4 separate regions of the Homo sapiens genome follow, and all the other regions are linked to region 3. The links come from fine-mapping of genetic effects on gene expression. A gene starts in region 3. Each other region holds a variant in brackets. All regions are shown on one strand. Distances are between the middles of the regions.

Region 1 (7,867 bases), 140 kb after region 3:
TTTTGTAGTGGTTTTGGGGGTGGCTGACAGCGGGAGTTGTTTTAGAAAAAAATTAAGCCAGAGCTGGGCACGGTAGCGCATGCCTGTAGTCCCAGCACTTTTGTAAGCCAAGGGCGAATGGATCGCTTCAGTTCAGGAGTTCAAGATGAGCCTGGACAACATGATGAGACCCCTGTCTTGACAAAAAATACAAAAATTATCTGGGCATGGTGGCACGTATCTGTAGTCCCAGCTACTTGGGAGGCTGAGGCAGGAGAATCGCTTGAACCCAGGAAGCATAGGTTGTGGTGAGCCGAGGTCGCACCACTGCACTCCAGCCTGGGCGACAGAGCGAGACCCTATCTCAAAAAGAAAAAAAAAAAAGAAGAAAAAAATTAAGCCATTGGGCTGGGCGCAGCGGCTCACACCTGTAATCCTAAAACTTTGGGAGGCCAAGATAGGCAGATTGCCTGAGGTCAGGAGTTTGAGACCAGCCTGGGCAACATGGTGAAACGCCATCTCTACTAAAATACAACAACAAAAAAATCAGCCAGGTGTGGTGGCGGGCGCATGTAATCCCAGCTACGCGGGAGGGAGGCTGAGGCACGGGAATTGCTTGAACCCGGGAGGCGGAGGTTGCAGTGAGCCGAGACTGTGCCACTGCACTCCAGCCTGGACAACAAAGTGAAACTCTGTCTCAAAAAAAAAAAAAAAAGCCATTGCATACAAACTGTTTTGCTGTGGCACCATCCTTTTATTCCTTTACACACTTGTATGGTTCCCTCCCTACCTCTTGTCATTCAGGTTTTTGTTAAAAAATAACCTTCCCCATTACCTTTGTTAAAATTGCAAAACCCGCACACTTGGTACACCCGTTCCCCTTTTTGCTGTGTTTTTGCCATTCAGCAAGCACTATTCTACTAGTGTTCGTTTCTCCTGCGGCCCTGGAATCTGGGGCAGGGGTCTTTGTTTCCTTCCCCTTCCCCAGCTTTTAGCTCAGCACCTGAGGCGTGGCAGGCCCTTTGCACATGCATGTTACAGGACCGTGTGCACAGGTTCAGCTGCTCCTGGATGCTGTTATCGCGGGTGCATGTCCCACCTTCAGACCTGAGTTTTGCCCACCAGGTGTTCGTCGGCTCATTCCTCCTTTAGTCTTCACTCTGCCAAGCTAGGCAGTCTCACACATGTGCACTCACGTGGCCGGGTGTCCCCTTTGCCCACAGACGCGGATCTTGGTCACGCACAGCATGAGCTACTTGCCGCAGGTGGACGTCATCATCGTCATGAGTGGCGGCAAGATCTCTGAGATGGGCTCCTACCAGGAGCTGCTGGCTCGAGACGGCGCCTTCGCTGAGTTCCTGCGTACCTATGCCAGCACAGAGCAGGAGCAGGATGCAGAGGAGAACGGTAGGGGCAGCCCCAGGGTTCCACCCACTCAGGGTGTCTGGCACCTTGAAGGGCCACATTGGCCTCTTTGAGGTTGCCACCAGCCACTTGGGGAAGGCGGCTCCTCAGGGCATGAGGGTGGGAGCTGGATGGAGCCCCCTAAAGAAGCAATGTGGAAAACCACCTTAGTCCCTGCAGCGCTGAACTGGGAGAGAGTCTCGGTGCTTTATGGCCAGGGGATGGGAGCACCAGGCTTCAGCTCAGCTGACCTCAGGGCAGGGTCTAGCGCCTTCCTGGAACATGACCTTGGACCTGATGAGTTTCAGGGTCCTTATGGCAAAAATGGGAATGATGGTAATTAAAGTCCTGGCTCTCGGGGCTGAGAGAAACTGAGGACATACGTGACACAAGAGATGTGAGGGTTGTGAGGTGAAGCACGGAGTTAAGCTGGCAGGCTCGGGTTGGTGACGTCTGGGTTCAATCCCCGGCCGCTCATCTCCCCAGCTATGTGACCTGAGGCCTGCCCTTCAGACCCATCTGAGCTTCACTTTCCTCCCTCATAAAGCAGTTCAGCAGGGCCAGACGTGGTGGTTCCCAGCACTTGTAATCCCAACACATAGAGAGGCTGAGGTGGGAGGATCGCTCCAGCTCAGGAGTTTGAGACCATCCTCAGTAGCATGGCGAAACCTCATCTCTACAAAAAATACAAAAAATTTGCCAGGCACAGTGGCTCACGCCTGTAATCCCAGCACTTTGGGAGGCCGTGGTGGGTGGATCCCTTGAAGCCAGGAGGAATTCAAGACCAGCCTGGCCAACATACTGAAACCCCAACTCTACAAAAAAAAAAAAAAAAAAATTCAGATGCTATTAAGTGCTTTGGAGGGGAAACAAAAAAGACAATGCCATGGGCTGAGGAGTGATGGGTGTCATTGTGGCAACTCAGGCAGGGGATAGGGAAACCCTCTCTGGGGAGGTTGCATTGGCATGGGAAGGAGCCAGCAGGGAGAAGATCTGGGAAGTGTTGTGGGCAGAGGGAACAGCCAGTACAAAGGCCTCAGGACCAGCATGAGCTCAATTTGTTTACAAAACAAAAAGGGTGGTGTGGCCAGACCATGGTGTGCCAGGACGTGGGGGGCAGGAGAAGAGGTCAGCACAGTGATTGTCCTGCAGGGCCTTCCAGGTGGGTTTTGGTCTAACTGCCCTGGGAAGCCACTGAGTGTCAGAGAGGCAAAGTGACCAGCCCCAGGATACACAGCAGCTGCTGGCAGGGTTGGTTCTCAAGTTGGTCTCTGAGTTTCTCATCCTTTGCCTGGGGTGGGAGCTCCTTCTCTGCAGAGGTCCTAGTGATCTCTAATAAGTGCTTTCTTGAGATGTAATTCACACACGTAGGCTGGGCGCAGTGGCTCACGCCTGTAATCCCAGCACTGTGGGAGGCTGACACAGGTGGATCACCTGAGGTCAGGAGTTGGAGACCAGCCTGGCCAACATGATGAAACCCTGTCTCTACTAAAAATACAAAAATTATCCTGGCGTGGTGGCGCACGCCTATAGGCCCAGCTACTGGGGAGGCTGAGGCAGGAGAATAGTTTGAACCTTGGAGGCGGAGGTTGCAGTGAACCGAGATCGTGCCACTACACTCCAGCTTGGGCAACAGAGCAAGACTTCGTCTCAGAAAAACAAAACAAAACAAAACAAAAATTCATACAACATACAATTAACCCACTTAAATCACAAAATCCAACCATCACCACAGTCAGGTTTAGAACTTTTTTTAATCACCCCCAAAAGAAACCCCAATCCATCAGCCATGACTCCCTATTTTCCCCAGCACCTCCGAAGCCCTAGGCAACCACTAATCTTTCTGTCTCTCTAGATTTGCTTATTCTGGACATTTCATATAAATGCCATCACAATAGGTGGAATGTTGTGACTGGCGGCTTTTACACTTAGCGTGGTGTTTTCAAGGTTCGTCTATGTTGTAGCTTCATTTCCTTTTATTGCGGAATAATATGCCATTGTGCAGATAGACCATACTGTGTTGATCTGTTCACTGGTTGATGGACATTCAGGTTTTTTCCACTTTCTGACTCTTGTGAATACTGCTGTCATGAGCCCTGGTGGTTTTAAAGGAAAAGTTGGTGGCCGGGTGTGGTGGTTTGTGCCTGTAATCCCACCACTTTGGGAGGCCAAGGCGGGTGGATCACTTGAGGTTAGGAGTTCAAGACCAGCCTGGGCAGCATGGTGAAACCTCGTCTCTACTGAAAGTACAAACATTAGCTGGGATGGTGGTGCACACCTGTAGTCCCGGCTATTCGGGAGGCTGAGGTGGGGGAATCGCTTGAGCCTGGGAGTCAGGCTGCTGTGAGCCAAAATCATGCCACTGCACTCCATCTGGCCTGGGTGACAGAGCAAGACCATGTCTCAAAATACAGTTGGATTTTTGTTTCTTGCCAGTGCATGATAGCTGACATTCCCTTCAGCTTTTAAATTATTTGATTAGACTGAATTTCTGCATGTTCATTCCCTTGTGGTTGGGAAGTTCTACCTTGAGTCTAGCCTGTTTCTTCTTGCTGCAGAATCCCCCTTTGTCTATCTCTCAGCCCGAGCAATGCATTGTGGCAACTTCTCGGTGACTTTTTCACTGACCTGCTTGGCAGGCTACTTTTAGGTGACAATACCCTTTGTGCTCTCTAAATCAAAATGTGTGGGTTTAGCTGAATCTTTTGCCCAGCGTGAGGTCTGTCTCTCTACCCTTCCGTCCAGGTGAGCAAAAAATGTCCTTAAACTCTCTTGGCCCCAGATAGGTTCCGCACCCCCGCCTTTCTTTCCCAGCTGCTAGAGTATCCAAGCAGTGTATACAGAACATGGAAGGCTGCCAGATGCTTTGTGATTTTTGTACACATCAGCACTTAATTTGGTGATGCAAATGCCGCCCACCACCCTGGCACCTCGTGCGTTCATTTTCCCAGTTTGACCTCCCTACCTCCTGCCTTTGAGGTTACATAGAAGTCCTTGGCAGTGGGTCTTACATCAAACTGGGGCACCCCCCTCTCTCACCACCCACCCTTTTCCATTGCTCTGGAGGGGCCCTGGCTATAAAGTCTTGACATCAGGGTCTGGTCTTGCCCAGCCTTAGCCAACTCGAAGCGCCAATGACCTTGGGTTTGTTTAAACCACATTTTTGGCTCTTCCTAAAGGGGAACTTTTTTCCTTGTTGGATTAATCAGCTCTTTTTTTTAGAACACCCAGGCTGAAGGGGTGCAGGTGTTGGTATTTGGTTTGGGAGAATCCTTGAGGGGGGATGGGCAGGAACCAGGCTTGTGAATGGGGCCATACCGACCTCTCTCCCGGGATATTCAGTTTACTGATTTCTAAGAAATATATCTTTTTTACTGTTTGTCTCCCTCTCTC[C/CTT]TTTTTTTTTTTTTTTTTTTTTTAACTTTTAATGGCATTCCTTTTATTCCTAATTTATTCCCATGCCATAAGCTTTTGTTTCTTCAATTTCTTCTGGGATATATTTTTCTTCTGTGCAGCCTCCCCTTCCGGTTTAGGAACAGTTTGTTCCCTTTCAGGCAGGATCATCTGGATGTGGCAGAGTGAGCTCACGTATGGGTTAATCCGACCGACCCTGAGCTCTGTAGGTCCGGCGACGCAACTTAGGTGCTTTCTTCAGTTGGATATGCTCAAGGACCAGAGAATCTGCATCTGAACCCTTAAGTTCAGTGTGACTCTCTGTATTTTTAAGCATGTGCAGCAGAAATTCAGTGCTCTTTTTGGGCCGCCGACCTTGTGGCCAGCCCCACTTCTTGGCCTGGGTACATCTACCAACTCCACCATTATAATGTCAGAATGGTACATGTTGTTTCTGTAAAGTGGCATCTTTCTGATACTTTGTGGCCTTTTGTACGTGCATACCTTTGATGGCCTGGGCGCTTTCAGGAGTGTTCTTTTTCTTTTTCTTTTTTTTGAGACGGAGTCTTGCTCTGTCGCCCAGGCTGGAGTGCAGTGGCGCGATCTTGGCTCCCTGCAAGCTCTGCCGCCCAGGTTCACGCCATTCTCCTGCCTCAGCCTCCCGAGTAGCTGGGACTACAGGCGCCCGCCACCATGCCCAGCTAATTTTTTTTGTATTTTTAGTAGAAACGGGGTTTCACCGTGTTAGTCAGGATGGTCTCGATCTCTTGACGTCATGATCCGCCCGCCTCGGCCTCCCAAAGTGCTGGGATTACAGGCGTGAGCCACTGCGCCTGGCCTTTTTTTTTTTTTTTTTTTTTTGATACAGAGTCTCACTTGTTGCCCAGGCTGGAGTGTAGTGGCACGATCTTGGCTCACTGCAGCCTCCACCTCCCGGGTTCAAGAAATTCTTGTGCCTCAGCCTCTCGAGTAGCTGGAGTTACAGGCATGTGCCACCACGCCCAGCTAATTTTTGTATTTTTAGTAGAGATGGGGTTTCACCATGCTGACCAGGCTGGTCTCAAACTCCTGGCCTCAAGGGATCCTCCTGCCTCAGCCTCCCAAAGTGTTGGGATAACAGGCATGAGCCACCATGCCCGGCCTCACAAATGTTCTTAAGGTGAACACGAAGATTTGAACCTCTTGATCTGCATGATTCTGTGGTGTTTTCTGGATAAAGTGAATAGTGAACCATTTTCACAGATTGCCTCAAGCCCCTTAGGGGAACAAATTTTTAAGGGATTTAAAAAAATGGCTCATTAACCTTCATACCTGGAAGGTAAAACACATCTTCATGACTCTGGTTTCTTTCTTAGGAACCTAATACCTAGAGCAGTGGTTTTCCATCAGGGGCAAATTGCCCCCACCCTGGGGACAGTTGGCAATGTTTGGAGACATGTTGGGATGTCAAAACTGGAGTGGGGTTTGCCCCTGGCAGGCAAGCAGGGTAGAGGCCAGCGATGTCGCTAAACATCCTACAGCACTCAAGACGAATTCCCCCTTACCCTGCCCCCCGTGACAGGGAATCCCCTTGCCAGGACATCCAAAGCACCACGAGCAAGAAACCCTGTGTGCTCCGACTTCACACTGCTGAATTCTTCCCTTGTCCTCTTGGGAGAAGGATCTTTATTCCAACAATGTGGCCATTTTTCTCTTTTAAAAAATTTTATTTATATATTTTTATGTTTTTTTATGGAGATGGGATATCAGTCTGTTGCCCAGGCTGGTCTCGAACTCCTGGGCTCAAGCGATCCTCCCACCTTGACCTCCCAAAATGCAAATGCTGGGATTATAAGCATGAGTCGCGGCACCTGGCCCGTGGCCATTTTTCAAAACCTTGCTTGAACCATCTGTTAACCTCATGGCAAATATTTTTCCCTCTTAAGTATTTACCGAGTTTTTCTTAATGATTATAAAAGCAACATGTGCTCATCGTAGACATTTGCAAACTACAAAAGAGTACAAAGAATCAGGAAAAAAGGTGGCTCATATGTGTAATGCCAGGACTTTGGGAGGCCAAGGTAGGCGGATCACCTGAGGGCAGGAGTTCGAGACCAGCCTCGCCAACATGGTGAAACCCCATCTCTACTAAAAATACAGAAATGTCAGGAGGCTGAGGCAGGAGAATAGCGTGAATCCGGGGGGCAGAGCTTGCAGTGAGCCAAGATTGTGCCACTGCACTCTAGCCTGGGTAACAGAGCGAGACTGTCTCAAAAAAAAAACAAAAAAACAAAAAAAAACTCCCGAGAAAGAACATCTTTCTGCCCTCACTGCCCAGAAGGGGAGCTGTTGTTAGCTTTGGCATCTTTTTCACCTGTCCTTCCTTCCTAGGCCTTCTCCCTTGACAAGATTGAGAGTATATCTTAGAGTTTTCTCATCTCCTGCCACCTTTTGATTTCTTTTCTTAACAGTGGGCCATAAGCACCTCCCCAAGTTACACAAATTAGTTGTCAGCACAGAGCAGCTGCCGAGAGAGTTCATCAGACAGACCCCCACATTCCTTCTGGCTGTCCTCAGAGGCCGGATTTCTTCCTCTTTTGAGGATGAAGAGCTTTCTCTGCCGAGGCTGGGGGAGGAGGTCAGTGAGGCAGCCAGTGAATGCCGTTTTTGGTCAAAAATGAGGCGTTGACTATAAAGCTGTGAGTTGAATTCTTCCCTCCGGGGAGGCTGGCCTGCTGGACCTTGCCCAAGCAGAGTTCCAGAACCTTCTTGAGTAAAGGCAGTGTTGGTGGAATAAACAGTGAGAGGACTGGCAACGGAATACACAGACCCGGGGCAGCACTTAACGTACGTGGGTCAAGGGTAGAAACAGCACCTGGCTTGACAGCATCCAAAACCCAACACCTGGTGGTTGCATGAACTCAGTGACAGTCACTGAATTACAAGTTTCGTGTGTTTGCTTTAAAAAAAAAAAGAAAGAACTCTTGCTACTTTATAGCATTCTCCACCCTGGCCCCCAGCCTTCATGTCCCTCTTCTTCCCTGCTTTGATTACTTTGTGGCACTTATTGCTGCCTGGAGTAAATTATGGATCTACTTGTTCATTTATTGTTGAT
Region 2 (7,867 bases), 22 kb after region 3:
AAAAAAAAAAAAAACAACAAAAAAAAAACTTGTTTAACTACCTAAATCATAGCATTTGTGTGAAGCCAGACTATCACAACTCTGAGAACTGCTGACATATACATATTTTGGAAGTTCCAGGTTTTCTGTTACTATAAACATGGTAGAGATTGAATTACTTAAAGGGACGTCTTTTCTCCTACTCTTTGTCTTGTCTGATGTTATAAGGGGTACAGTATAGAATGAAAACAGTGCAGAAATGAGTGAAACATGAAAATCCCTTCTAGAGATAATTTTCTTTTATTATTTTTTTGAGACGGAGTCTTGCTCCATTGCCCAGTCTGGAGTACAGTGATCTCGGCTCACGGCAACCTCCACCTCCCAAGTTCAAGTGATTCTCCTGCCTCAGCCTCCCGAGTAGCTGGGGTTATAGGTGTGTACCATGCACCACCATGCCCGGCTAATTTTTGTATTTTTAGTAGAGACAGGGTTTGCTGTGTTAGCCAGGCTGGTCTCGAATTCCTGACCTCAGGTGATCCGCCTACCTCGGCCTCCCAAAGTCCTGGGATTACCGGGGTGAGCCACCATGGCCAGCCTCTTCTAGAGACAATCTTATTGGCAGGTTGATGTTTTTAATTTTCAGCCTCTCTTCTCCACAGATCCTAAAGATATAGTAATTTTTTTTTTTGAGACAGAGTCTTGCTCTATTACCCAGGCTGGAGTGCAGGTGGCGTGATCTCTGCTCACTGCAGCCTTCACCTGCCGAGTAGCTAGGACTGCAGGCATGCACCACTATGTCTAGCTAATTTTTGTATTTTTAGTAGAGATGGGGTTTTACCATTTTGGCCAGGCTGGTCTCAAACTCATGACCTCAAGTGATCCACCTGCCGCAGCCTCCCAAAGTGCTGGGATTACAGGTCTAAGCCACCGTGCCCAGCCATAAATACATGGTATTTTTTAAGAACAAGAACGGGATTCTACAAAAACATATATATGTGTATTTTGAGACAGGATCTCCTCTGTTGCTCAGGGTGGAGTGCAGGGGCACGATCATGGCCCACTGCAGCCATGACCTCTCAGGCTCAAGCAATCCTCCCACCTTAGCCTCTGGAGTAGCTGGGACCACAGGTGCCCACCACCATGCCCAGCTAATATTTTTTCTTTTTTTTTTTTGTATTGAAAACAGTCAGCCAGGTGTGGTGGCTCACACCTGTAATCTCAGTACGTTGAGAGGCCGAGGTGGGCAGATCACTTGAGGTCAGTAGTTCAAGGCCAGGCTGTCCAACATGGTGAAACTCCATCTCTACTAAAAATACAAAAATTAACTGTGGTGGCGCTTGCCTATAATCCCAGCTACTGGGAAGGGGGAGGCATAAGGATCACTTGAACCTGGGAGGAGGAGGTTGTAGAGAGCCAAGATGATGGCACTGCACTCCAGCCTGGGCAACAGAGCAAGACTCTGTCTCAGAAAAACAAAACAAAACATATAGTCTTTATTTTTTTGTTTGCGTGGGCTGGTGCATCTTGATTATGATGCATTTTTGTTAATTGATATTTAATTGCAGATGAAATGTAACATGGATCTGAGTAATTGCTGATAATTGTTTCCTCTTTAGGCAGCTGGTCAGTCTTTTTTTTTTTTTTTTTTCTTTTTAAGAGAGTTTCTGTCTTGTTGCCCAGACTGGAGTGCAGTAGCGTGATCTCGGCTCACTGCAACCTCCTTTGCCAGGGTTCGAGTGATTCTCCTGCCTCAGCCCCCCGAGTAGCTGGGATTACAGGCATGTGCCACCACGCCCGGCTACTTTTTGTATTTTTAGTAGAGACGGGTTTTGCCATGTTGGCCAGGCTGGTCTCAAACTCCTGACCTCAGGTGATCCCCCCTGCCTCTGCCTCCCAAAGTGCTGAGATTACAGGCTTGAGCCACTGCTCCCAGCCCATAGTCTTTTTTTTTTTTAAACCTCTGTGTACAGGTAGGTCCTGGGGAAATTCGAGGCAAGACTTGGGTGAGTGGGTATCTTAGACCCTCTCAGGAGCTCTTTGCAGGAGGTAGAATCTCCGAGGGTCAGTGCCCATGAATGGGTCCCATGGCCTGACTGGTCCCATTCAGGTGACAGTCTCTGAGGGTCCTGCATAGCCCTTACCTGGGCTCCATGCTGGGAATCGAGCGGTATACAGAGCATGGTTCCCTGCCTTCCTTGAGCCCCAGTCTTGTTGGGGAAATGGCCAAATAAATGAATAATCATCAGGAAGTGCTATGAAGGGGAGCTGCGTGGTGCCCGGTGAGTGCAATAGCGGGGTTTCATCTGGTTGGAGAGAAAAAAGGAGACTCCTTAAGTGGGGAACCCGTTTGATGATACAGGTTTGGCTATGTGTGTCAAAGACCCCAAATATAGTGGGTTAAGATACAAGCTCATTTCTCTCTCATGTAAAAATCCCAGCTGGTGTGGCAGCTCTGTCCCCAAAATAATCAGGGTCCCAGGCCCCTCCCATCTTGTTGCTCTGCTGTCCTCATCTGCATGGATCAAGATGATGCATCTCCATGTCCACATGGCAGCCAGTAGGAAAGCAGAGTAAGGGCACAACCTGGAGGTTGCCTACGTCTCTCCTCGTCACATCCCATTGGCTTGTACCTAGTCATGTGGTGCCTCTAGCTGCAAAGGAGGCTGGGAAATGTAGTTTCCTTTCTAAGCAGGATGTACCCAGCTGAAGATGTTACTCAGGGATGAGGGAGAGTTGATACTGGAGCGCAGCTAGCAGTTTCTGCTGTATAGGCAAAAGCAGAAGGTAAGAATGTTCTGGGCAGTGGGAAATGCATGTGCAGAAGCACTGGCTTAATGAGGAAGGCCACTGTGGCTGGAGTCAAAGAGTAGGGAAGAGAAAAAGAACCAGAAGGAGGCTGAGAATTGGGCCTGTAGGACTTGGATCCTGTGGGAAGCCTTGGCAGCTTTCTTTCCCCCCTCCTTGCTTAGGCATTAGCTCTAAGACAGGGATATTTACAACACAATTATTTCTTTAAAATTATATATATATTTTAATTTGTACAGATGAGGTCTCCCTGTGTTGTCCAGGTTGGTTTCAAACCCCTGAGCTCAAGCCATCTTCTTGCCTCGGCCTCCGAAAGTGTTGGGATTACAGGTGTGAGCCATTATACCTGGCCTTCAACTCAGTCCCTAAAGACAACTCCTTCTCAAGTGTTGGAAAGAACCAATGACTAATCACTTCTAGTCTGCCTTATCCCCATCTTGCTTGTGTGACTTTGGTAAGAGTTTGTTTGTTTATTTAAAGGAGCAGAGAGTTTAATAGGCAAGAAGGGGCAAGAAAGAAGGGAGAATAAGATCCCCTGTATAGAGACGGAGGAGGGCTCCAAAGCTGAGAGAGGGAACCCCAGCTGCCACAGATAGCAGCTAGGTATATGTACAGAGGCTGGAAGAGGCAGTGTCTGATTTGCATAGGCCTCAGGGGATTGGTTTGACTAGGCATGTCTTTCACGTAGCGCATGAAAAAGCTGGCCCTCCCACCTAGCCTTTTAATATGCAAATGCAGGGTACCATGATCTGCACACTTGGGGAGGTGTGGTGGCGGCCATGTTGCTAGGAACATGTGGGGAAAGGGCAAGAAGGCTGTGGGAATCGCCATGTTTGGGTGGACCCAGTTTCTAATGGCTTGCATTTGCATATCAAAGGTTGCTGGCCTGGCTCTAAGAGCCGGGGCTTTACAAGAAACTTTTCCGGAGTTGCTTTAAAAACCAAACATTTCCCAAGGACCCCTTTTCCTCTCTATTTGCCTAAAATAATTGCTTAACTCCT[A/G]CATTACCCCCTGTGGAGATGCCACATTAACTGCTGTTAGGGGGTTTTGGGCGACGACTTCTTCTGGCTACTTCCTGGTGAAAAGGGGCGTTGAATGGGGAACAGCAGCTAGGGCTCCTCCTGGGGTGGATCTAAGGGTCCTCGGAAGAATGGCGTGTCCATGTGTGCTTCAGGTTACAGCACCATTTTGAGTTTGATTGCTTCAGTCTGATGAAATAATTTCCTTTCCTGGCCAACACACCAAAATGATACGGCTCCGATGAGTGGGGGAACACCAGGGTTCTTGGTCCTCATGCCGGTTTAGATAAAATGACACAGACACACGTGGAGTGGTTTTAAGGAGTGGAGAGTTTAATAGGCAAGAAGGAAGGGAGAAGGAAGAAGGTCCCCTGTACAGAGACAGAGGGTGGGGGGCTCCAAAGCTGAGAGACGGAACCTCCAGGAGTTGATTTTATAAATAAAATAACATGCGTTGAGGTCACTCTGTGTTGTGTGGTATGCCCAGCCCTCTCTGCACATAACTTGTTTCAGGCCCACAGTCATGCTGGGTGGTTGCTGTAATGACTTTTTATTTTAAATGGGGAATCTGTGACACAGTTAAACATGCGCAGGATCATGTCACTAGCAAGGAGTGGACACGGTATTCAAACCCAGCAGGTTGACTCAAAGCCTGCCCTTTCCCCAGCTGTTTTGCCCCTCAGTCATTTGAGTCTAGTCTTCAGGATTTTGACATCTATCTCTTACCTTGTATCTGTTAGGATTGCATCTGGCTTCAAGAAACAGCCCTACTTCAGCAGCCTAAGCAGAAAGGTATTCATTTGTTTATTTTTTACATGTCAGGAATTCCAGTACCTCTTGGAGTTGCTGGCATTGGATTAGTGATGCAGGGTTGTTAGGACTGACATCTCTGCTGTTTTCTTGTCTTTTCCTCAAGGCCCCTAAATGGCTGCTACAGCCCTAGGCAATATATCTGGGTTCAAGGTAGGAAGAGGGAGGGATTGCACCAGCCTCATGGGTTCCTTTCTATTCAGGAAAGTCCAAGCCTTCTTCAAAGGCTCTTCTGTCCACATTGCAGACTTCTGGTCATGTCTCCTTGGCTGAAACTGGATTACATGACCACCTCTAGCTGCAAGGGAGGCAGGAAAAATGAGCATTTGGTTTTATGCTTCTCTAGGAGGAAACAGCAAGGGAGAAACTTTTGAGTAAGCCAGCCAATATTGTCCAACATGTACTTATTTTTTAACTTTTTTTTTTTTTTTTTTTTTTTTTGAGGCAAGGTCTGGCTGGCTCTGTTGCCGAGGCTAGAGTGTGGTGGCACAATCTCAGCTCGCTGCAACCTCTACCTCCTAGGCTGAAGCTATCCTCCCACCTTAGCCTCCAGAGTAGCTGGGACTACCACATGCACCACCATACCTGGCTAATTTTTATATTTGTAGAGATGGGGTCTCACCATGTTGCCCAGGCTGCTCTTGAACTTGTGAGTTCAAGTCGTCTGCCCACCTCAGCCTCCCAAAGTGCTGGGATGACAGGCATGAGCCATCACACTCAGCTAATGTTTTTCTTTCAATCAATTCACTTTTTAAGCCTTAACAAAGTTATCGCAAAAGGAAGTTTCATATCACTTTAGAATGTCTTTGAAGTCACAGGTTGGTTATATTTATGTGCTTACTTTAATAGCTATTAAAGTAAATATAGCACTACTAAGAAAAAAAGATATTCTTTAAATCGCCTATTATCAGTGGTTCTTAACTCTGGATGATTTTGTCTCCAGGGGACATTTGGCAATGTCTGGAAACATTTTTGGCTGTCACGATGGGGCAGGGAGCGCACGCCTAGAGTCTAGTGGGTAGAGGCCAGGGGGTGTGCTAAATATCCTACAATACAGGATGGGCTCCATAATGAAAAATCCTCTGGTCCCAAATGTCAGTAGTACTGCAGTTGAGAAACCCTGGCATGGACGCAATCCACCTGCTGCCAGGAGTTATATACAAGCCATGTTAGGGTAATGCTGCAATATGTCCATCGTGATTGTGTTTTCTCCTGGGTGACTATCAGCAATGGTGTAGCCTGCTTGTTGGTTTTCAAGGTCCATTCTCAAGATACTATCAGATCTCCAGCAATCGTGTGATGCAGTTTAAAATGTTCATGTGAGCTGGGCGTGGTGACTCATGCCTATAATCCCAGCACTTTGGGAGGCCAAGGCTGGAGAATGGCTTGAGCCCAGGAGTTTGAAACCAGCCTGGGCAACATAGCGAGACCCAGTCTCTACACAAAATTAAAAAAAAAAAAAAATTAGCCCGGTATGATGGTGCATGGCCATGGTCACAGCTACTCAGGAGGCAGAGGTGGGATGATCACCTGGGCCTGGGAGGTTGAGGCTGCGGTGAGCCACGATTGCACCACCGTATTCCAGCTTGGGTGACAGAGTGAGACCCTGTCTCAAAAAAAAGAATGTGCATATGAATTCAAGATATGTCCCTTATAGAGACTGGTGAGGACACAGCTTATTGACCCTGAAGCTGAAGTGGTTGAAATGATAGCCCTCTTGCCAGGCAAATCCTATGTGAGTGCTTCTAAAAGAACACTGTACCTTGCAGAGAGTATTCCTGGGACCTGGCAGGAATCAGGGCCTCTTGGTGACCACATGCTTTGGAAAGGGCTGTGCTTTGGCAAGTGGGAGATTTTATTATTTATTTTCTCCTGTCTGCCTCGGTTTGGCAAAAACAAACCTGGCCTGGGCATGGGCCTTGTGGAGACAAGAAGGCAGCTTGAGATTATCAGAGATCAGGCTGCTGGTGGGTTTGCCTGAGCTGGCCTGGTCAGGTAGCTTGACAATGATGCTCAGACCCCCATTAAAGTTAATTGAGCGGTTACAGAGTGGGAGTGGGGAGTGGGGGGTGTGGTGACTGCCTGTCTCCTTGAGTTGGCGTGGCTAAGAAGTAAGGGAATTTTTTAACTTTTCCTTCTTAATTCTGGAAACTTAGAAAAAAGCCTCTCACCATCCCTTAATCATTCAGTTAGAGAGACCAGGCTGTTGATATGGACATGCTGCGTTTCATGGAATCCTAGAGGCCAGTATTTATGACATACTTCCCAGTTTCAGAGATGTTAGGATATAAAAATGTAGCCAGCAGTGTTTACAGGATGGGCTAATCGAGAGACACAGACAAATATCAAAGATAGCAAAATAGGAAGAAACAGAGTCTTAGAATCAATGCAGTATAATAATAGCTTCTAGTTTCTTTCTGTTTTTCTTTTTATGATACAGAGTCTCACTCTGTCGCCCAGGCTGGACTGCGGTGGCATGATCTCGGCTCACTGTAGCCTCCGTCTCCTGGGTTCAAGTGATCCTCCCATCTCAGCCTCCAAGTCACTGGGATTACAAGTTGTTTGCCACCATGCCCAGCTAATTTTTGTATTTTTAATAGAGACAGGGTTTCACCATGTTGGCCAGGTTGGTCTTGAATGCCTGACCTCAAGTGATCCCCCCCAGCCTTGGCTTCCCAAAGTACTGGGATGACAGGTGTGAGCCACCATGCCCAGCCTCCCCCTCACTCTTAAGCACAGCTCTTCGGCAGTCAGAGATGTTGCCTGCTGTATTTCTCGTTCTGCTTTTACACATGGTTTAAAAATCCTCGCCCAAGAATGTAAGCCCCATGGCTAGTGCTACCTGCTACCTTTAGGGGTGGCCTCTCCTGGGGTGCAGGAGGTTGCACAGTTCGTTTTGTGACAGCAGGGTCATTTTTTAATCGGATCATCTGCCCCAGTTTGCTTGGCTCTTAGGTGCTTGGGAGTTCTCCTGGTTTTTTGCTGTTGTGAAATGGCCCAGCTTGTACACGTTGTTCCTTTTCTTGCTGGAGTTATTTCCTTTAGACTCCTGTCCCTAAAGTAGGATTGTTGGGTGAAAATGGGGTATGCGTGGTTAGGCTTTTCTCTGCCTGCTTTCTGGATTGCTCTTCAGATAGATTTAATCACCTTTTATTTATGTTTTGTGGTGGTTTTTTTTGTTTTTTTTGTTTTTTTTTGTTTTGAGACTGAGTTTTGGTCTTGTTGCGCAGGCTGGAGTGCAATGGTGGGGTCTC
Region 3 (7,867 bases):
TTTATTTTACTTTTGAGACAGAGTCTCACTCTGTCGCCCAGGCTGGAGCGCGGTGGCGCGATCTTAGCTCACTGCAACCTGCGCCTCCCAGGTTCAAGCAGTTCTCCTGCCTTAGCCTCCCGAGTAGCTCGGATTACAGGCATGTGCCACCATGCCTGGCTAATTTTTTTGTATTGTTAATAGAGATGGGGTTTCCTCATGTCAGCCAGGCTGGTCTTGAACTCCTGAGCTCAGGCAATCCACCCACCTTGGCCCACCTTTTTGTATTTTTTGTAGAGATGGGGTTTCACCATGTTGCTCAGGCTGGTCTCAATCTCCTGAGCTCAAGAGATCCACCTGCCTCGGCCACCCAAAGTGCTGGGATTACAGGCATGAGCCACTGCACCCAGCCAAATTGTTAGTTTTCCAAAGTAGTTAAGCCAATTTATATACCTCCCAACAGAGCGTGCCTTTTCCAGTTAATCCACGTCTTTGTCTGCACTCGTAATTTTCAGTCTTTGTTTCCAGTCACTCTGGTGGGTGTATGATGGTATTTCACTGGGGTTTTATTTGCATTTCCCTGATGACTAATGAAGTTGAGCATGTTTTCATGTGCTTGCTCAATAAATATTTGTTGAAAGGATGAATAAAGAGTGAATGAATAAAACATGGAAAGAAATCCAACTCTGTCTTGTGCCCTGCCTAAAACCCACCAGTGGTTCCCACTGCCCCTCCTTTGGCCGACGGGTACCTGCCTGCCCTGGCTCCTTCTGACCCCACCTGCTCCGGATGGATTTCTTTTGCTTCTTCTCTGGGTTCCTGCCATCCAGGCTGTCTTCAGTTTCCTCCAAGGACCCTCCCTGCTTCATAACTTTGCTATAAACTGTTTTCTTCTGCCCAGAACACAACCCAGGCCCAAGGAACCCAGACGCGTTCCTTGTATCTCAGTTTGAAAGCCTCTTCCTCCAGGAAGCCTTCTCTGACTTCCACCCCCCAGCAAGGGTGGTATAAATTGCTAACTTAGGCCCACTTTTGCCCACTTTTTTTGTTTGTGTTTTTGAGATGGAGTCACACTTTGTCGTCCAGGCTGGAGTGCAGTGGGGCCATCTCAGCTCACTGCAACCTCCATCTCCTGGGTTCAAGTGATTCTCCTGCCTTAGCTTCCTGAATAGCTGGGATTACAGGCACCCACCACCATGTCCAGCTAATTTTTGTATTTTTACATTTATTTATTTATTTATTTGAGATAGAGTATTGCTTTGTCGCCCAGGCTGGAGTGCAGTGGCATGATCTTGGCTTACTGCAACCTCCGCCTCCCAGGTTCAAGTGATTCTCCTGCCTCAGCCTCCCGAGTAGCTGAGCCTGCAGGTGCCTGCCACCACACCCAGCTAATTTTTGTATTTTTAGTAGAGATGGGGTTTTACCATCGGTCAGACTGGTCTCGAACTCCTGACCTTAAGTGATCTGCCTGCCTTGGCCTCCCAAAGTGCTGGGATTACAGGCGTGAGCCACCATGCCCGGCCACCACTTTTTTTTTCTAGCTGTGACCATAGTTGTACATATCTCCCCTTCCCTGGCTTTTTTTTTTGTTTTTTTTTTCCTGAGACAGGATCTCGCTGTGTTACCCAGGCTGCAGTGCAGCGGTGCAATCATAGCTCACTGTAGCCTTGAACTCCTGGGCCAAATGAGCCTCCCACCTCGGCCTCCCAAAGCACTGAGATTACATGCGTGAGTCACTACTTCTGGCCTGTAAATACCCTTTCAAAAATATAATATTTGATTAACATCTGCCATCTTACCATAAGAAACACTTAAAAAAATCCCAATCCAAAAAAATTCCAATCCTTTAAGCTATATAAGAGTAGCAATTTTATCTTGTTCCTAGCAAGACATCTGGCATATAGTAAATGCTCAATAAATATTTGTTGACAGTATAAAGGTCAAGCAACAGCATAACTGGCATTATTACATGAAAGTAATTATCCCTTAGAAACTCATTCACCCTTGGGGGACCCGGGCCAATAAAAAAATCACAGAAAACAATCCTATCTACCTTCCTCCTTCCTCCTTCCCTCGCTAGGTCCTTTGATTGGGGGGAGGTCTCAAATGCACACACTGTTTCTGTTTTATTTGGTGCAGCTGTTGTGTGCATGTGTTATGGAAACCCACATCAGGCAGGAGATTAAGGAGGAGAGGAGAAAAGAAAGGCATCGCTGGTATCACAGTGAAATTTACACTCTGCGGCCTCGCCCTAGCTCCTCTGTCTCTACCTGTCTGCCTATGAAACAGTTCAAAACTAATATGGCGCAATGGATGGTATTATAGACTTCCCACCTCCCTGGCCAGACTTCTTGGGTTCAAAGTTTGGCTTAATCACTTACCATCTAAATAATCCCTGACAATGTACTCTGTCTTTCTGGGCCTTAGTGGCCTCATCTGCAAAATGGGGATAATACTACTTCTTACCTCATGGGGTTGTGAGGATTGCACAAGTTAATTTGTGTAAATTGCTAAGAACACAGCCTTAGGAAGCCTTGTCACTGTGAATGCATATTAATTTTTTTTATTATTATTTTTTGAGACAGAGTCTTGCTCTGTTGCCCAGGCTGGAGTGCAGTGGTGTGATCTAAGCTCATTTCAACCTCCGCCTCCCAGGTTCAAGTGATTCTCCTGTTTCAGCTTCTCAAGTAGCTGGGACTACAGGTGCCCGCCACCATGCCCGGCTAATTTTTGTGTTTTTAGTAGAGACAGGGTTTTGCTATGTTGGCTAGGCTGGTCTTGAACTCCTGACCTTATGTGATCGGCCCGCCTCGGCTTCCCAAAGTGCTTGATTACAAGCACGAGCCACCATGCCTGGCCTACGATTATCATGTCTCCAGGCTTCAGTTTCCTTACCTCTGAGGTGAGGATCAATAACCTGGTTATTTCTAAGTGATGCTTAAAGAGGTTGAGAAGAAGCAAAGGCGCTCTGCACACAGGTGAGGTCAACAGCTGTTAGTGATGGAGACTGGCGCCGTCTGGGTCATCAGTGCTCCGGAATCAGGCTGCTCACGGGTTTGAATCTCACTTCCACTTTCACTCCTTATTAACTGTGTGACCTCGGGCAAGTCACTTCGCCTTTCTGAACCTCAGTTTCCCCATCTGTAAAAGGTAGGTGAATAACAGTATTCACCTCCTTCTGTGTGACTCAGCTTTGGAGTCAGCGGACCGGGTTCAAATCCCAGCCCTGCAAGTGATTAGCCAGGTGACCCTGGGCAGAGGGAATCACTCAACCTCTCTGCACCTGGGTTTCTTCCTTCATGAACGTGGAGACTTTACAGGATGAAATGAGGGCACAGTTAAGGCGCCCGGTACACTCCAGGCAGGTAGGGGGCTCCGTTCACGTTATTTTCCCCTGGTGACGGATACTGTCCTTAAACAGCATTTGAAAAGTGGTCGCAGGGTGTGTGGCCCCAAAGATCCCAGGCGCTTCCGGAAGGCGAGCCAACGCTCCCCAGGCCCGTCCGCGAGCGGGTGGGCCTAAGCCTTGGAGGATCTGGGGTGGGGGTGGCGCGGGGTCCAGGCCCGGGGCGCCGAGAGGTGGCTGGTCCGGCTGCCCACGCCGAGACGCGCGAGGTGAGCGGGCGCCGGGGCGGGGCGGGGTGGGGCGGGGCCGCCGCATCCCCGTGACGCGCGGGCCAACCAGGCGGCGTTGCGGCCCCGGCCCCGGCTCCCTGCGCCGCCGCCGCCGCCGCCGCCAGCGCTAGCGCCAGCAGCCGGGCCCGATCACCCGCCGCCCGGTGCCCGCCGCCGCCCGCGCCAGCAACCGGGCCCGATCACCCGCCGCCCGGTGCCCGCCGCCGCCCGCGCCACCGGCATGGCGCTCCGGGGCTTCTGCAGCGCCGATGGCTCCGACCCGCTCTGGGTACGTGCCGGGGGCCGCGTGAGGCCGGCGGGACGGAGGGAGGCCGGCGGGGAGGGAAAGCACCGGGCCCGCAGCCGCCCGGGGCACCCCGCTCCCCGCTCTGCTGCCGGCCTCGGGGGCCCGGGACCCTCACGTCGCCCGCGGCCCAGCCCCTTTCGGGGGTGCAAGGCATGGGGGAAACTTGGGTGACTCAGTTCCTGCGGAGCAGAGCGTGGGGGGCCGCGTGCCCAGCCCTGGGGTTTTGGAGGGTCGGGTCGGGTCAGAGCCGCCGTGAGGAGGCCTTCCTGTTTTGGGGTTCCCGTCTGTAAAAACAACCTTCCAGGGAAGGGGACGCTAGAGATGGGGGGCGGGAAGAGGGGTGTCTCTCTGCTTCTGTTTTCCCATCTTTTTTGTGGTTAGGGTCCCCCCTTTTCACGAAAAATACTCCGTGACCAACGGGGTGAGCTGGGGAGGGGCTTAGATTGTAGAAAGGGACTTTCATTGTCTCCCCAAAGTTGTCGTACAAGCCACATTACTCTTCTGTGGTTACCTAGCTTTGTTTTTTTTGTTCTTTCTACTTAGATACTGCGGGGGAAGTTTGGGGGAACCAGGGAAGAAGGGGGATGTCCACCCTTGATGTGCCCTACCTGACCCTCGGCTCGGGGCAGACTTGGGGTGCAGCTGAGGACGCCCAGGACCCTGGTAGCTGTGGTCCTGCCCTCCCTTCCCTGCAACACGTGGAGCTCCTCTCTGGGGATGCCCCTTAGATTTAACCCCGGCAAGTTTTCTTCTGTAACGTGGCCTGCGGAGCCTGACTGGGTGTCTGGAGTCCACTTGCTGTGGTTTAAGCCCCAGTCTTTTGGGCTTCAGCTTCTCCGTAATGCGATTTGCCTCTTTGTTCCAGGAAGGCAGGCACTTCTGTCTCGTGCTGTCTTGATTGTTGGTGAACGCAGTAGGCAAATCTGGACACGACTGTTTCTCTCTCCTCTTTTGTTTAGGAATCAGGAGAAACAGCCTTGGTTCTTAGGAGCTGGTGATCAGCTTCCAAAAATACTTTCTTGTCCTGTTTTGCCGGCCTTTCCTCGAGGGTTGCATTTGGAGTGTTGAAAAGTCATCCTCCAGGGCCCCATTGGAGGGTTTGGTTTTGTTTGTTTGTTTTTTTTAGTAGGGTATCATTGTGTTTAATAACCTACCACACTTTGATATATCTCCCATTTTAAGCCAGTGGGGTTGGAGAGTAACCCCAGGGGTGGAAATAGAACACAGACTTTGCCTTGAGGGTCTGGGGGTGATTGGAGCCTCTTTGCAGATGGACTTTCTTTAGCAGGGGAAAACCTGTGGCTTCCTTGTTGCCAGGTGTAGTAACAGCAAGATTATTTTTTGCAAAGATTCACATGGTGATCTGGGTTTGTGTTGCTGTGAATTCCAGAATATTCTCTTGTTTATTTTCTTCTGAATTGAGGAGGGGGCAAAACAGGGTGAACATCCATGAGGTTTTGTATCAGGACGTATTTTATTGATGGCAATTGGTAGTTGATGGCTAATGAGTATGTTTGGGGTGCGCTTTGTTTATCTTAAGAAACTCATTCACGAAGTCCAGTTGTAATATTTTTTAAAATTTTTATTTTCTTTTTTCTTTTTATTTTTTCCTTCGTTAAGGACTTTCTGCCACAGAAATTGCCAGGTGGTTGGGTTTTGCTTGGGGGTAATTGTAGCTGATCTCTGCCTCTGGTAGGTACCCCATCCCCGTGTTTGACCTTGCGTATTTCTGCTGTCTGGATTCCAAGACTTGTTGGAGGTGCCTTGGAACCAGAATTTGAGAGGAGGCAACTGGGGCCTGAGTGGGAAAATTGAAATATAATTAACTGAAAGCTAGAAAGTAGGTAGTTGTTGCTTTTTTCTTTTCTTTTTTTTTTCTTTTTCTTTTTTGAGACAGAGTCTTGCTCTGTCACCCAGGCTGGAGTGCAGTGGCACGATCTCAGCTTACTGCAATCTCTGCCTCCCCGGCTCAAGTGGTCCTCCTAACTCAGCCTCCCAAGTACCTGGGACTATAGGCGTGTGCCACCACGCCCAGCTAATTTTTGTATTTTTTATAGAGACAGATTCGCACTATATTGCCCAGGCTGGTCTCCTACTCCTGGGCTCAAGCGATCCTCCTGCCTTGGCCTCCAAAAGTGTTGAGATTACAGGCATGGGCCTCTGTGCCCGGCTGTTTTTGTGTTTTTCAAGGTAGCGTGTCCGAGGCCAGGAGCGACTGGCCTCCCAGGCAGTCAGATAACTGTGTGACCTTGAGCAAGCCACTTTCCCTCTGTGTGCCTCACTTTCCTCATCTCTAAAATTGGACAGGAGCCAAAAATGTGGCAGCCTTCTTGGGTTGTTGCGAAGGGTCAATGAGTTAATCTTGTAAGTGGCTCAGCTTGTGCCCTGCACGGAGATAAACAATGGTTAGTATTAAATATTATTTTTTCCAAAGATGAAGTTGTGTGTTTTAAGCTCCTTGTTCTTCCTTTGGATTCCCCTTTTCTTCAGCTGGTGGAGATGGGATTGGGCTGTGAAAAGGCAGTGAGGCACCCGTGCCTGGCTCCTGTTGTGACCAAGGTCATGTGCTTAGAAGTCAAGGTCAGTGGGCCTCGGGTGACTCTGTCAGAGCTTTGTTTCTGGGCTACTGTCTGCCTCTGAGCCGCAGGAAATGTCCAGAAAACCCAGAAGATGGAAATGGCCCATGATAAGTGTTCTGTTGACCTTTACTCAGACAGATGCTCTGGGAAGAGAAAAGGAGAACTTTGCTATCAAAACGGAAAATAGGGCCTGAGGACAGGTCACAGCAGCCCTTGGCTTTCTTTTCTCATGGGGGTGGGACTGGTAGGAGGCGCTGCTTTGTGGTTGATATTGGCATGATGGTTGGAAAAATGGGCCTGGGACTTTTTGTGAGTTCATTAAAAAAAAAAAAAAAAAAAAAAAAAAAAGCAGGCCGGGTGCAGTGGCTCACGCCTGTAATCCCAGCACTTTGGGAGGCTGAGGCAGGCGGATTGCTTGAGGTCAGGAGTTCGAGACCAGCCTAGGCAACATGGATTGACCCCCGTCTCTACTAATAATACCAAAAAAAAAAAAAAAGCCTGGCATGGTGGTGTGGCACCTGTGGTCCCGGCTACTAGGGAGGCTGAGGCACTAGAATCACTTGAAGGCTGTGGGGGTGGAGGTTGCAATGAGCTGAGATCACGGTCACTGCACTCCAGTCTGGGCCACAGACTGAGACCCTGTCTCAAAAAAAAGAGGGCCGGGTGTAGTAGATCATGCCTGTAATCCCAGCACTTTGGGAGGCCAAGGCAGGCGGATCACCTGAGGTCAGGGGTTCAAGACCAGCCTGACCAACATGGCAAAACCCCATCCCTACTAAAAATACAAAAATTAGCTGGGCCTGGTGATTCACGCCTGTAATTCCAGCTACTTGGGAGGCTGAGGCAGGAGAATTGCTTGAACCTGGGAAGAGGTTGCAGTGAGCTGAGATCACATCACTGCACTCCAACCTGGGCGACAGAGAGACTGTCTCAAAAGAAAAAAAAAATTGTGCTTCAGGCCCTGTGTAGAAAAATTGGAAATTATGGAAAAGCAGAGGAAACAACTTGGTATTAAGCAGTATAGTGTGGTGGCTCAGAGCAAATTCGCCTCTGCTGCTGAGGCAGGTTACGTCATCTCTCCGTGCCTCAGTTTCCCTATGTGGGATAACGTAGTACCTAGTGAATAGCGGTGACTTGAGGAATAAGTGAGTTAATCCTTAGCAAGGACTTAAAATGTTGCTGCTTGGCACACAGCGCTCAGTAAAGATCAGTGGTCGTTGCCACCTGGAATTCTCCAGTTAATTTTTGCTGTTGCACCAACTGCCACTGGAGAAGACCAGAAGGAAGCTGCAGGTGTGTGTCACCGTCGATGGAGTGAGCTGGTCCCAGGGTTGATGTGCACCTCTGAGATGCTCTGTGGCATCCACCAACTCAGTAACCCCCTGAA
Region 4 (6,408 bases), 110 kb after region 3:
GCCTGGGCGACAGAGCAAGACCTTGTCTCAAAAACAAACAAAAAAGTCACTATGTCAGCAAGGCCTTCCCTGAACACTTGGTTTAAACATTTGCCATCTTCTCCATTCTCCTTTGTTTTATTCACACTTAGCAGCTTCTAGCCAACCTGTGTAGGAACCGTTCGTTATCTATTTACTGTGATATAAGGAGCTTGTGCCAGAATGTAAACCAGTGCCCCCTGCTTCCTGCATTAAGATAGCCTTGCAAGACAAAAAGTGCGAGCTGAGTCGAACGGCACGCTTGGTGCCATAGTTGATCTACATTGTGGTGCTGCGTCCTTATTTTGTCACCAACTGGTCACAAAGTGTGGATTGTCAGTGTCTCATAGGCCACATGTCAAGTGGCATGGTCTAAACACACTCTAAAATTTACTTATTTTGGGCTGGGTGCGGTGGCTTGTGCCTGTAATCCCAGCCCTTTGGGAGTCCAAGGTGGGTAGATCACTTGAGGCCAGGAGCTCGAGACCAGCCTGGCCAACCTGGTGAAACCCTGTTACTGCTTAAAAAAAAAAAAAAAAAAGAAAGAAAAAAAAAGCTGGGCATGGTGGTGCATGCCTATATTCCCAGCTACTCAGGAGGCCGAGACATGAGAATCCCTTGAACCTGGGAGGCTGAGGTTGCAGTGAGCCGAGATCGAGCCACGGCACTCCAGCCTGGGCAACACAGCAAGACCCTGTCTCAAAAAAGTAAAAAAAAAAAAAAATAAGTAAAATAAAATGTACTTATTTTATTGTCTGCTTTTCCCCCACTAGGATGTCAGCTCCAGATGGGCATTTTTGTCGTTTCTCTTGACTGCTGTATCCTCAGTATATAAAACAGTGCATAGCAGGTGCTGAACAAATATTGTCATCCATTGTAAAAAAAAAAAAATACAGAAAGATATAAAATGAAAAGTATATTGTCCTCTCTTCCATCAGTTCCTCCCTTCTAAAGTGACAGTTTCGTGTACGCTTTTAGAGAAAAATGGACAAGCATATAGGTATTTAAAAATACTTTGACAGATATAAATGGAATCATACTGTACATAGTGTTCTCTTTTCTTTGGTTAACAATATATAGTCTTGGTTCGTTCATTCTGGTCTACTTCATTTTAGTTTTTTGGGGGGTTTTGTTTTGAAATGGGGTCTCGCTCTGTCCCCCAGGCTGGAGTACTGTGGTGCGATCATAGCTCACTGCAGCCTTGAACTCCTGGGCCCAAGCAATCCTCCTGCTTTAGTTTCCTAAGTAGCTGGGACTCCAGGTGCACTGCTACCACTCCCAGCTTGTTTCATTTGTGTTCATGATGGATGCTTGTCTGACGTGCAGATGCGCCCTGCTGGAATTACCCTTTCTCCCATTCCTTGCAAAAACAGGTTGTTCCCTGTTTTTTTTGCTGTTATGATCCATGCTACACTGAAAGTTCTGGTACCTGTCCTGGGGTATGGTAATGGGTCTATCCCTGCCTAGCTGGCTTTGAAAAGTTTAAAGACAACAGTGCAACTTACAATTTGCAAAGTTGGCCGCAAATCAGGAGACCATACAGAGATGGACTTTGGAAATTCCCTTTTTAAGCACAGTTAAAAACAGTTAATGGTGAAGGATGACTTCAGATCATGCCCCATGTTTGTTTTTTCTTTCTGTCTTTTTATTAACTGTGTCATTCTTTTTGTAATGTTGTGCTCATTACAACTATTCCTTCTTGGTCAGGTTGGCAAATTATATGTTTTTCTGGCAAGTTTCTGTGAAGCAGAGTTAAACATGTTTATGAATATGAACTTTTCTGTTAAACTACCATCTGCTTCATCTTTGTTGAGTTTCAGGTGGAATGTCTAAGGAAGCTCCAGCTGTTTCAGCATTTGCGAAAGCGTGTTCATGCTCCCACTGAATTTTCTTAGTCTTGCCTTACTTCTCTCAGGGTCTGGAACTGCAGGAGAGATGGTGTTCAAATTCAAGCCTGCATCAGAATCACCTGGAGAGCTTGTTATTATATTTTATTATTTATTCATTTATTGAGATGAAGTCCCAGTCTGTCACCCAGGTTGGATTGCTATGGCACTATCTTGGCTCACTGCAATCTCTGCCTCCCGGGTTCAAGCGATTCTTCCACCTCAGCCTCTGAGTAGCTGGGATTACAGGCATGCAGCAACCATGCTCAGCTAATTTTTAAAATATCTTTAGTGTAGAGATGGTGTTTCACCATGTTGGCCAGGCTGGTCTCGAACTCCTGACCTCAGGAGATCTACCCGCCTTGGCCTCCGAAAGTGCTGGGATTACAGGCATGAGCCACAGTGCTGGCTGTTAGCTTGTTACTATAAAACTCAGCTTTCTGGGCCCCACCCAAATTTTCAGTTTTAGTAGGTCTGGTTGGGGCCTGAGTATTTGCTTTCCTAACATATCCCTAGGTGCTGCTGCTTCTGGTTCAGGTTGACATGTAGAGACACCGGAGTGGATCCTCACTGCCTAAAGTCTGGTCCGTGGACCAGCAGCCATGGCATCACCTGGTGCTTGTTAACGGTGCAGAATTTCAGGCCTCAGCCCAGATCCACTGAAACGGAATCTGAGTTGTAACTAGTTCTCTAGGTGGTGTGTATGCACATTAAATTTCGAGAGAGACTGGCAGAAAGTAGGAGTAAAGAAACTTTTTCTGTAAATACTTTCGGAATTCCGGGCCATA[C/T]AGTCTCTGTCACAAATACCAGTCTCTTCCAGCGTAGTGCAAAAACAGCCTTAGATAATATGGAAATCGATGGGTGTGGCTGTGTTCCTGTAAAAAAGTATTTAGAGACACCAAAATTTGAATTTTATAGAATTTGCATGTGTCATGTAATATTGTTTTGATTTTTTTAACTTTTAAAAAATATGAAATCTGGCTGGGCGCAGGGGCTCATGCCTGTAATCTCAGCACTTTGGGAGGCCGAGGCGGGCGGGTTGCTTGAGGCTAGCAGATTGAGACCAGCCTAGCCAACGTGGTGAAACCCCGTCTATACTAAAAATACAAAAATTAGCTGGAAGTGGTGGTGCGCACCTGTGGTCATAGCTACTCGGGAGGCTGAGGCAGGAGGATCGCTTCAACCCAGGAGGCAGAAGTTGCAGTGAGCCAAGATCATGCCACACACTCCTGGCTGGGCAACAGAGTGAGACCCTTTCCTGCTGCTGCCCCCCCACCCCCTCCCAGCCCCCCACAAAAAAAAATTAGCCAGGTGTGGTGGAGCATGCTGGTCATCCAAGCTTTTTGGGAGGCTGAGGTACGGGAATCGTTTGAACCCGGGAGGCGGAGATCGCAGCGAGCTGAGGTCACGCCACTGCACTCTAAGCCTGGGCAACAGAACAAGACTCTGTCTCAAAAAAAATAAAAAAAATGAAATCAATGCTGAGCTCATGGGCCGTATGTAAACAGGTGTGGGCCAAATGTGGACCTGAGCCATCCTTGTTGGCCAGCCCCTGGCTTAGAGGACTGGAATGTTCTTCTGAGAATCAGGACACCTGCCACATTCTACTGCCAGCTCACAGTGTGACCCCAAAGCTGGTCATCTCACCTCGCTGGCTCTAGATTTTGTCACATGGAAAATGAAGGGGTTAGATTCCAAGCATGTCAAATACTGGGCCCTGTCCTCCTTCCTCATGCCCACAGCAGACACCCACAGTCACTCATGGGGTTCTTTCCCACTGAGTTATGTTCAAGCAGCCCTCCAGGTGACTGGTGCCAGTGGCCTAGAGTTGAGCAAGAAATGACATCTTGTTGCCCTTCTGTAACTCCATGTTCCCTAAGATCACTTCCAGCTCCAATGCCCCTGCATTCTGCCTTGTACATTGCATTCTTCTTACACTCCAATACCTTGACTTTACCGGGGTGCGTTGATGAACTCTCTCTTTTTTTGTTTTTTTTGGGACTGAGTCTCACTCTGTCACCCAGGCTGAAGTGCAGTGGTGCCATCTCAGCTCACTGCAACCTCCATCTCCCAGTTCAAGCAATTCTCCTGCCTCAGTCCCCCGACTAGCTGGGATTACAAACATGCACTACCATGCCTTGTTAATTTTAATATTTTTAGTAGAGATGGGTTTTTGTCATGTTCGCCAGGCTGGTCTCGAACTCCTGACCTCAAGTGATCTACCTGCCTTGATCTCCCAACGTGCTGGGATTACAAGCGTGAGCCACCGCGCCTGGACTCTCCTTTTTTTTTGAGAAGGAGTCTTGCTCTCTCGCCAGGCTGGAGTGCATTGGCACGATCTCAGCTCACTGCAATCTCTGCCTCTTGGGTTCAAGCGATTCTCCTGCCTCAGCCTCCTGAGTAGCTGGGATTACAGGCGCCTACTACCATGCCCAGCTAAGTTTTGTATTTTTAGTAGAGACGGGGTTTCACCAGGGTTCAAGCAATTCTCCTGCCTCAGCGTCCGAGTAGCTGGGAGTACAGGCGCACGCCACCATGCCAAGCCAATTTTTTGTATTTTTAGTAGAGATGGGGTTTAGCCGTGTTGGCCAGGCTGGTCTCAAACTCCTGGCCTCTAGTGGTCCACCCACCTCGGCCTCCTAAAGTGCTGGGATTACAGGTGTGAGCCGCCATGCCCGGTGGGTCTTACTTTATAAAGTAGGAAGTAATGTATTTGCATATGGTGAAACATAATTAAAGCTGCACCAGATGGTATTCATACAGCCGGACTTCGCACGTGGCCACCTCAGCCTGCTGACATTCGCCAACAGGTCATCCTTTGTCCCTGTGTTGTAGGGCCTGGACTGCACATTGCAGGATGTTTCCCAGCATCTGTGGCCTCTACCTGCCAGATGCTAAGTCGTACCTCTCCCTCTTCTTCCCAGTGGTGACAATAGAAAATGGCTCCAGGCATTGCGAAGTGTCCCCTTGGGGGACAGAATTCTCCCAGTTGAGAACCACAGTCAATAGTGAAAGGCCCAAGCCCTTCCTCCTAACACCAGTCACCTTGCTTCCCTCTCTCCATGTTTCTTGTGTGTTTTTCCAGAGTCCACGTCTGTATCACTGTAATGGTGGATACATGTCATACATGTAGTTATGGTTACTTGATTCTGTTTACTTTACTTTTATACAAGTGATAGTAAGAGTCATACATAAATACATACAAAATGGCTTTTTTTTTCTTTTTTTCTTTTTTTTTTTTTTTTTTTGAGATGGGGTCTCACACTGCCGCCCAAGCTGGAGTGCAGTGACATGATCTTGGCTCACTGCAACCTCTGCCTCCCAGGCTCAAGTAATCCTCCAACCTCAGCCTCCCAGGCAGCTGGGACTACAAGCATGCACCACCATGCCCAGCTAATTTCTGTAATTTTGCAGAGACAGGGTCTCACTTTGTTGCCCAGGATGTTTTCAAACTCCTGAGCTCGAGCAGTCCGCCTGCCTCTGTCTCCCAAAGTGCTGGGATTGTAGGTATGAGCCACTGCACCTGGCCTTGATGGCATTTTGAAAGGTCTTGTCTCAGAGGAAAAGATACAAGCCAGAGGGCGCTGGTGATGAGGTTTGGTCTGTGCCTTGTGTCCCGCTTAGGAGGGGATGGGCAGCGTGTTCTCACAGCTTTTTGCTCTGCACATTGGATTCGTTGGCAAAACCCACAGTTTCCAGGCTGTCACCAAACTTTGCTTATCACTTCCTGCCCTGTTCCCCATTAGGAAACCACAGCAGAAGATGCTTAAGAGCAGGACTGGCTTTTCTTCTCTTTTTTCTTTCTTTCTTTCTTTTTTAAAGAGACAGGGTCTTGTTTTGCTGTCCAGGCTGGAGTACAGTGGCTTGATCACAGCTCACTGCAACCTCCAACTCCTGAGCTAAAGCGATCCTCCTGCTTCAGCCTCTGGAGTAGCTGGGATTACAGATGTGAAATACTGAGCCCGGCTACCGGCTTTACTTAACCTTTTCTTGAGCTTTCTTGCCATTTAGTTTCCCGGAGTTTCCAGAGACAGAGTTTGTTGAGCTGTTTGGCAAGAAACAGATGGGCCTGGGTGTCAGCTGGGGAGACCTTGTCCTGGCCGAGGCATCGAAGCCTCTGACTACATTAGGATAAAATATGTGGCCTTTAGTTCCCCTGGAAGGTGCCTGAGTGTTTTTTCCACTGGTGTGCATTCCTGTGCTTCAAAGACGATGAGGTGTTTACCCAGCGGTAGGTGTGATGGAACACAGAGGCCGGGGAAGGCCAGGGATGCCATCCAGGGACTGATGGGACTGTTTTTCTGGAATGGCAAACCTGGCATTTACCACGTCCACCTAATGCACTTTCCTAAAATAGCATCGCCAGGCAGCCGTCAATATTTAACATTTTCTGTCTTGGATGATTTGTGAGCTTCTTGCCTTCTGTTTACCCTGAATCTCCCTTTGTTAGAATAATTCATCATTCTCTATGGTAATGATCTGTCCTGTAGTTCTCTGCTGATCA

Evidence for each region. PIP is the estimated chance that this variant, and not a neighbour inherited with it, causes the effect.
Region 1: its variant is the best candidate, but not a certain one, in a credible set for the expression of ABCC1 in whole blood (INTERVAL, PIP 0.73).
Region 2: its variant is the best candidate, but not a certain one, in a credible set for the expression of ABCC1 in monocytes after Pam3CSK4 (Quach 2016, PIP 0.64).
Region 4: its variant is the best candidate, but not a certain one, in a credible set for the expression of ABCC1 in sun-exposed skin (GTEx, PIP 0.88).

What each region holds. Positions count from the first base shown.
Region 1 is chr16:16,089,203-16,097,069 of GRCh38, forward strand. It overlaps ABCC1 (ATP binding cassette subfamily C member 1 (ABCC1 blood group)), which reads left to right. Exons shown (of 31, transcript NM_004996.4): 19 at 1,203-1,386. It also overlaps the pseudogene RPL17P40. Among named protein-coding and RNA genes, the nearest start is that of ABCC6, 130 kb to the right of the region's middle. The variant C/CTT (reference allele first, on the strand shown) is at 4,777.
Region 2 is chr16:15,967,759-15,975,625 of GRCh38, forward strand. All of the region lies in intron 1 of ABCC1 (ATP binding cassette subfamily C member 1 (ABCC1 blood group)), which reads left to right. Among named protein-coding and RNA genes, the nearest start is that of ABCC1, 22 kb to the left of the region's middle. RefSeq lists enhancers at 2,417-3,056, 3,057-3,695, 3,696-4,335. The variant A/G (reference allele first, on the strand shown) is at 3,786.
Region 3 is chr16:15,945,917-15,953,783 of GRCh38, forward strand. ABCC1 (ATP binding cassette subfamily C member 1 (ABCC1 blood group)) reads left to right here and starts at 3,700. Exons shown (of 31, transcript NM_004996.4): 1 at 3,700-3,883. The coding sequence starts at 3,836. It overlaps LOC107984869 (a long non-coding RNA gene), which reads right to left and starts at 3,255. Exons shown (of 3, transcript XR_001752339.2): 1 at 2,875-3,255.
Region 4 is chr16:16,056,640-16,063,047 of GRCh38, forward strand. The region is part of intron 12 of ABCC1 (ATP binding cassette subfamily C member 1 (ABCC1 blood group)); the gene reads left to right. Among named protein-coding and RNA genes, the nearest start is that of ABCC1, 110 kb to the left of the region's middle. The variant C/T (reference allele first, on the strand shown) is at 2,693.